Homo sapiens: one gene and its partner. The protein of the gene in region 1 purifies or fractionates together with the protein of each later gene. This does not show direct contact. Each region holds a gene or a part of one and is shown in the gene's direction. Other genes may lie near its edges.

Region 1 (3,646 bases):
AATAGGGATGATCATCAGGTCCATGTCATAGGGTTGCTGTGAGGATCAAATCAGAAAATGGATGGGAAAGACTGGGCATGTAGGAAACCCTCATAGATGATGTTTGCAGGGGTTCCTTGTTCCTGCCCCCCATGAACACTCACCTTCCATCTTTATGTTTTATGTTTTGTTTTTGGTTTTGTTTTTCTTTGAGACGAAGTTTCACTCTTGTTGCCCAGGCTGGAGTGCAATGGCGTGATCTAGGCTCACTGCAACCTCCACCTCCCGGGTTCAAGCGATTCTCCTGCCTCAGCCTCCCATTACAGACCTCATGTGATCCACCCACCTTGGCCTCCCAAAGTGCTGGGATTACAGGCATGAGCCACCGCACCTGGCCTGTTTTATGTTTTATGTTCCCTGCTTTATGTTTTGTCTCATTTTCTGTTTTCTTCTCTCTTCTTTCTTCCTCTTTCTTTTGCTCCTTGTTAGCCTTCCCCCTTCCAAATGCCCAGGGCTCCACTAGAGCAGTTTGGCCCCAGTTGTAGCTCTTGATGCCTCAAGGCCACTGACTCCTCATTGGGTATGTTTTTTCCAGCCTTTGGGATTCTTTTTTTTTTTTTTTTCTCCTTGTGACGGGGCTTTGCTCTTGTTGCCCAGGCTGGAATGCAATGGCTCATGATCTCTGCTCACTGCAACCTCCACCTCCCAGACTCAAACAATTCTCCTGCCTCAGCCTCTGGAGTAGCTGGGGTTACAAATAGGCACCTGCCACCATGGTGGCTAATTTTTGTATTTTTAGTAGAGACGAGGTTTCACCATGTTGGCCAGGCTGGTCTCAAACTCCTGACCTCAGGTGATCCACCTGCCTCGGCCTCCCAAAGTGCTGGGATTATAGACATGAGCCACCGTGCCCAGGTGGCTTTGGGATTCTCGAACAGGGATGACCTCCAGCCAACTCTAAACAGAGAAATCTAAACCTGGGATCTATACCTAGTGTTACATTTTGTTCCCTTAGATTCTATGAACAGGGCTGGAACAGGCTGGTAACAAGAAGAGCTGCTGTGTCTTGTTGTTGTTTTGGTTTTGTTTGTTTGTTTGTTTTTTGAGGTGGAGTGTTACTCTGTTGCCAGGCTAGAGTGCAGTGGCATGATCTGAGCTCACTGCAACCTCTGCCTCCTGGGTTCCAGCGATTCTCCTGACTCCGCCTCCCGAGTAGCTGGGATTACAGGTGCCCACCACCACACCTGGCTAATTTTTGTATTTTTTCTCTTTTTTTTTTTTTTTTTTTTTTTAGGGGGGACGGAGTCTCACTCTGTCTGTCACCCAGGCTGGAGTGCAGTGGCACGATCTCAGCTCACTGCAAGCTCTGCCTCCCAGATTCACGCCATTCTCCCACCTCAGCCTCCTGAGTAGCTGGGACTACAGGTGCCCGCCACCACGCCCGGCTAATTTTTTGTATTTTTAGTAGAGACAGGGTTTCACTGTGTTAGCCAAGAAGATGTCGATCTCTTGACCTTGTGATCCACCCTACTCAGCCTCCCAAGTGCTATGATTACAGGCGTGAGCCACCACGCCTGGCCAAATTTTTGTATTTTTAGTAGAGATGGGGTTTCACCGTGTTGGTCAGGCTTGTCCCAAACTCCTGACCTCAGGTGAGCCACCTGCCTCAGCCTCCCAAAATGCTGGTATTACAGGTGTGAGCCACCACTCCCGGCCTGGAGCTGCTGTGTCGAGGGTAGGCAGAGCTTGGCTGGAAGTGAGTGCTGCCCAGAGAGCCAGGACTCCTGGGCTCCAGCTCAACCCTGCTATGGAAAACCATCCTTGGTCAATGTCTTGCTTTTCCTATTTGCAAATCAGGCAGAACCATAGCTCCTTCCTAGGTCTCTCAGGCCAGGCCAAGAAATGGTAAGGGATGTTTAGAAGATCCTGTGACTTTAAGGTGCTCGGCAGAAAGCCATGTGGGCTACTGGGGAATTCCTCCCTCTGGATGTGGACCACAGAGTATCTGAGTGCAATGGCAAGTATTTGTTCATGTCCTCTACTCATTTGTTGTTTGGGACATTCCTTGACATGACTCTTACTATCTTCTTCAGTCAGGATTCTTTACTTTTTATTGAAGTATGCCATTCTTCAGAGTACATATAATGAAAGTACAGCTTGGTGAACTTTCACAAACTGAACACACCCATGTAATTAGCACTGTCAGAGAGAAACAACGCAGGGCCAGCCCCCAGAAGCTCTGCCCCTGCACCCTTCCCACCTCACCCCACCAAGGGTTTCACTGTCACTATCTAATCACCACTCTTGGGTGTAAGTGACAGAAACTCATCTCCCAAGGACTTAAGCAGAAAGTGAATGCTTCCCTCAGCTGAGGGGTCCATGGGTAAGCCTTGCACAACTGGATCCAAATGCTTAGATGGTGCTGTCAGCTTGCCTGTGAACTTTCTCTGCTGAGTTCTCTTCTGTTGTTGATTTTAAACCTAGGCAGTTTCCTCTTCCCTTGTGATCAACAAAACTCCAGAATTGCAGTTGAGCAGATGTCCCATTCCTAGGCCAATAGTTCTGTGTGGGCTGGGGGGGCAGGGTCAGTGTGTGGAATATAGAGGTGGGTCTGTCTTGGGACACATGACCCTTAGGAGCCGGGAGTGGTGGATCAGCCCCATCTGAGCCACATGCACTTTTGAGTGGGTGAGGGTGATTCCCCAGGGAAAAGCCTAGAGACTGTTATCAGAAGGAAAAACGGGTACTGAGTGGACAGAACCAAGCATGTCCAGTGCACCTGTGCAGTGCTGATCCTCACACTAGTCACCGGAGAACAGGTGTTCGCTTGCGAAAAACCACAATCCAAAGTTCCGGGTTGCTCACAGGCAAGAAGGGAAAGCAAAGTACAATGCAGGGCAGAGTGGGGCATGCCTTGACAGGCACAGAGGAGGTGGCTGCAGGCGAGGCTGAAATGCCTCCCAGTGGGAGTCAGGGCTGCGCACTCATAGCATGGGTGAGGGAGTTGGGAGAGATGGAGCTTGTTTGATGAACACTGATTATTCCCGGCCATCTGAAGCCTGGGATATGGGAGATAAGGCTGGAAAGCTGAAGGTTACTGAAAAGGAGAATGACAGGATCAGATGTGTGGTGTAGGCACCTCTGGGGGCAACTGTACAAGATGGACTGAAGGGAGGCCAGGTGGGGACTTTGCTGGAATCCAGGAGATAAGGATGCAGCCAGGACCAGCATGACCCTCCCGCGGCTGGATGTCCAGGCCATCCACTGGGACACCATCAGGTCCCTTGACCGTCACATAGCCAGATGTGTCTTCAGTGTCCCCAACTTGATTGTCAGCTCTGCCAGGATCGGGATCCTGAGCACTGGCTTTCCTGGATGAATCTTTTGCTGATCTTATCTCTTCTCTATTTTCCAACCTTTATCTGTCATTTATGTTTTTTGTTCTACTTTTCACATCTTTTAAATTTTTCTTTCAACGTTTCTAATATCTAATGCAATTAGCCCCAAGGAAAACTAAGGGAAACAAGAAAAAACAAGAAAGGAAATGTACTCTCAGTACTTCAGCTGTGAGCTGTGAGCTTCAGCTGTGAGCTGGAGTGTTTTGCTCTGGTTTTAGGTTTTTGATTTTTTTTAAGAAAGAGGGTCACACTCTGTTGCCCAAGCTGGT
Region 2 (3,646 bases), on another chromosome or scaffold:
CTGAAACTTGACAGCCAGTCCCATTCCCAGAAAGAGGTGGTGACCTTGCCACCTGCTCATCTGCCCTTTTCCATCCACTCACATCCGGGAGCACTTTTTACTACACCTGGAATCTCCTGCCTGCTGGGGCCTGCCCTGTACCCTTCATCCTCAGGACCCACCTCACCAGTCAAGGAAAAATTACTCCAGAGGGCTCCACCTCCCCCTGCTTCCTCACCACGGGGCACAGCAGAACTTGGTACCTATGTCCTCTGCTTCAGGTTTCCATTGCAACCAATTTTTGTGTCTGCAGCTTGCCCAGCCTTCAGCACGAATAGTGCATGCCCCTTTTCCACTTGCCAAAAGGGAACTGGTGAGGATGGGCTGTAGAGGTCTTGTTAGGTTGTGCGCGGCCCCATCAGAAGTCCTGATGTGCCTGCCTTCCTCCAGGAACCCCACCTTGGACCATGACCATGGCCACCCTCTCCATCCAGGTGGAGGAGCGGAGCCTGACTCTGAGCAGAGCAGACCTGGGCACTGAGCACTGAGTTCAGGGTTTGCTGTCCGGACTCTTCTAAGGTGGAAAAATCGCTTTGGATAAATGAAGCCGAGATACATAGGCAACAGGAATCCTAGCAGAAAGTGTTAACATAAGCTCCAGTTCAAAAGAAGGCAGGTGTTCCTGGTTTCATCAGATAAAGGTCCATCGTGGATGAACTGCTCCCCAAGAAAAGTGACAGAAACACGCTGGGCTTCCTTAGGATTTGGTTAGCTGCTTGGTATCAAGCCTAATTTAGGAGTAAAGTCTTGCTGACCTTTAAACCAACCAACTCCAACCACACTGTTGATATTTCCTTTATTTTATTATTACTGAGTTACTCAGGAAATTATGGGGTTATTCTCCGTCTTATGATTATTAGTATTAATGATCATTATCAGTGTTAATAGCCATTTACATGATGCTTCGTTGTTTATGAAGCTGTAACTCGCATGGTCTCATTTACTAGCAGTGAATTCCTTGGAGAAACCCAACACGTATCATCCTCATTTTCTTGGTGAATCCATCCCTTTTAATAAGGTATTGACAACTTCTCTAGTAACCTACCAGAAAATTCCCATGAAGAAACAGTTGAATTCACCAGAATTTGGAATTGGATAACAGCTAGATTGTTTTTTATTCTTGTTGTTTATTTCATTCCTCTTGCTATGCACTGAGAAGAACGTTTCATTCTAAAAATATAGAAAATGGTGTGTTATAAAGACACTAGCAAAGACAAGCTCTATCCAGGGAGGGAGTCTACGTAGTGTCCAAGGAGAAGACGCAGATTGGGCTTCTCGAGCTGTAACCTTGGGATTGGTTAGAATGCAGATTTTGATTCAGTAGGTCTCAAGTAAGGCTTAAGGTTTATGCATTTCTGACAAGCTGCGGATGAAGACCTGGAAATCTGGTTGGTGGATAGAAGTTGTTGAATTGGGATGCCTCTTTCCAGGTGTCTGCACTTTGAGTCAGGCGGCTGTGACCCTGAGGGAGTTCAGAGGTGTGGCTGTCTATAGACCACACCTGGAGAAGTCAGCCTAGAGGGAGGTTTCCTGATCCTTAGTCATCAACTAATCAAGGGGAGAGGTTAAAGGTGTTGGTTCCTAGCAGGGACTGTGTTGGAATGTCGGTCAGAGAGGCTTCTCCAACCCTGCCTACACCTCTGCATTTAGCAGGGTGGGGAGTGGAGGCTCTCGCACCCATAAGTAGATGTTAGGATAAGTAATGTGTGCTTTAATAAGAATTGGAGATTGTGCTTTTGAAGTTCTGGCTGGAGAATAAGGTTTGGTACCTGGTGGAATGATTGCTAAGTTGTATTGTCACTGTCTTTAAAAACAGTGATATTTTGTGTGTGTGTGCATGTGCATGTGTGTGTGTATTTTCACCACCAGGTTGTCAAAATGCCCCTGTTTTTAAGAAAATAATCTGTCCATCCAGTTCTTCCTCATTCTGGCCTGGGGTGAGCCCAGCATGTGCCTCTGAGGGAACCAGGGGGAGAACCTGTGTTGCGGCGGGCAGGTGAGTCTGGTGAGTACCTGAGGCAGGGAGGGCTGAGCAGGTGGCAGGGTGTGTGCTTTGGAGCAGGTGTGGCCTGAGCAGTTGTGAGCCTGTAGCCAAAGCAAAGCGCCTGGTGAGCAGAGCAGGGGGCACCAAAAGAAGGCCCGGACGGTGGCCCAGAGGGGCCGAGGCCTTGTCTTAGCACTCCAGGGCTTCATCTGCAAGGATGTGGGCCAGCAGAGTTTCTGGGAGAGGGCAGATCGCACATATTTTCAGCTTTGCAGGCCACGCAGTCTATCGCAAGTACTCAACTGCAAAAAGCCATTCGTAGATGGTGTGGCTGTGTGCCAATACAATGATTTATGAACACTGAAGTTCATATAATTTTTTATGTGTCCCAAAATATTATGCTTTTGATTTTTTTCCAACCACTTAAAAATGTGAAAGCTATCCTCAGCTTGCAGGCTGCACAAAGACAGATGGCAGGCTGGATTTGACCCGAGGCCCAAGTTGGCCCACCTCTGGCCTACAGGCTGTGTTGGTCTAATAGGATCTCAGTGTACAGAATCTTTCATTGTCAAATTTTAGAAATTGTCATAAGATGGCTTGGCACAAAGTCTAGCACATAAGCTATATACCACCATGGGGAGAATGGAGAAGTTGGGATTATTCCACATTAGGGACATAAAACCCACTTGTGGCTATTCTCTCTAAAGCTTTCTCTTTGGAGAAAAAAGTGTGGTGAATAGGTTCCCATAACTCTCTAATACGCAAACACATGCTACAATAAATTGATTTCAGATAGAGATAAGACCCTTCGACTCACAGCAGAGAGTGTTGCATTTCTCCGGGACCCTCACAGCAGCCTTTCTGAGCAGTTGGGAGAGGCATTAGACTCGTTTTATAGAGGAAGAAGCTCCTGCCCACAGAACTGGTGTCACTAACCCAAGGCGACAGTTCTACCAAGCTGGGGGCCAGGATTCACATCCGGATCTTCCTATTCCAGCTAGCGTTTTTGCTGTCACTGTCTCATACAGTCCTTTGGAAGAACTGTGTCCTAAAATGTCATTTGCAAGCCATTTACTAGAACATGGAAGTTTTCTCTTTAGAAAAAGAAAAATGTGGTGAACAGATTCCCAGGTTGCCCAAGATGAGATGACCCTTTCATCTGTAACACAGCAGAACCATAGTCCTGGAGCTTCGGTGTGAGTTCTAAGGCCCTGGGGCTGTGAGAAGTAGGAAGGAGTAGGTAAAAAAGCAAATTTCTTTGCCTGAGAGTGGCCCCAGACAAAATTCCCAAGAGGCTGGCGATGTCCGAGCTGTCTTCTGCCCTGTGGGCACCCTGCCCCCTCCCCGTCTCTGGCCATCTGGGCCCTCTCGCTTGTTCCCTCCCTCTGTGACACTCAGCTGAGGGGCGTCTTGTGCAGTGGGGCCCGGCTGGCCACCGCCTGCTAGTGTCAGGGCAGGAGCGAGCGCCGGTGGGGACGAAGGCACAGCCCACACCGGCTCCTGCCCCGGACTCAGCCACCCAGCACCGGCTCCTGCCCCGGACTCAGCCACGCCCTTGTTTCATGCCTCCAGCTTTCCTGACCTTCCTGACTTGAAATGTGGGTCTCCCCAGCTTCTCGCACG

What was found. The genes of interacting proteins can lie anywhere in the genome.
Region 2: the proteins of CHST6 (region 1) and GLB1L2 purify together in Homo sapiens (affinity purification with mass spectrometry; 2 studies listed by BioGRID and IntAct, with this or other methods). This does not show direct contact.

Annotation. Positions count from the first base shown.
Region 1 is NC_000016.10:75,485,432-75,489,077, reverse strand, and holds part of CHST6 (carbohydrate sulfotransferase 6), read left to right. Parts: intron 1-3,646. UniProt on the Homo sapiens protein: Sulfotransferase that utilizes 3'-phospho-5'-adenylyl sulfate (PAPS) as sulfonate donor to catalyze the transfer of sulfate to position 6 of non-reducing N-acetylglucosamine (GlcNAc) residues of keratan.
Region 2 is NC_000011.10:134,338,418-134,342,063, forward strand, and holds part of GLB1L2 (beta-galactosidase-1-like protein 2 isoform b precursor), read left to right. Parts: intron 1-3,646.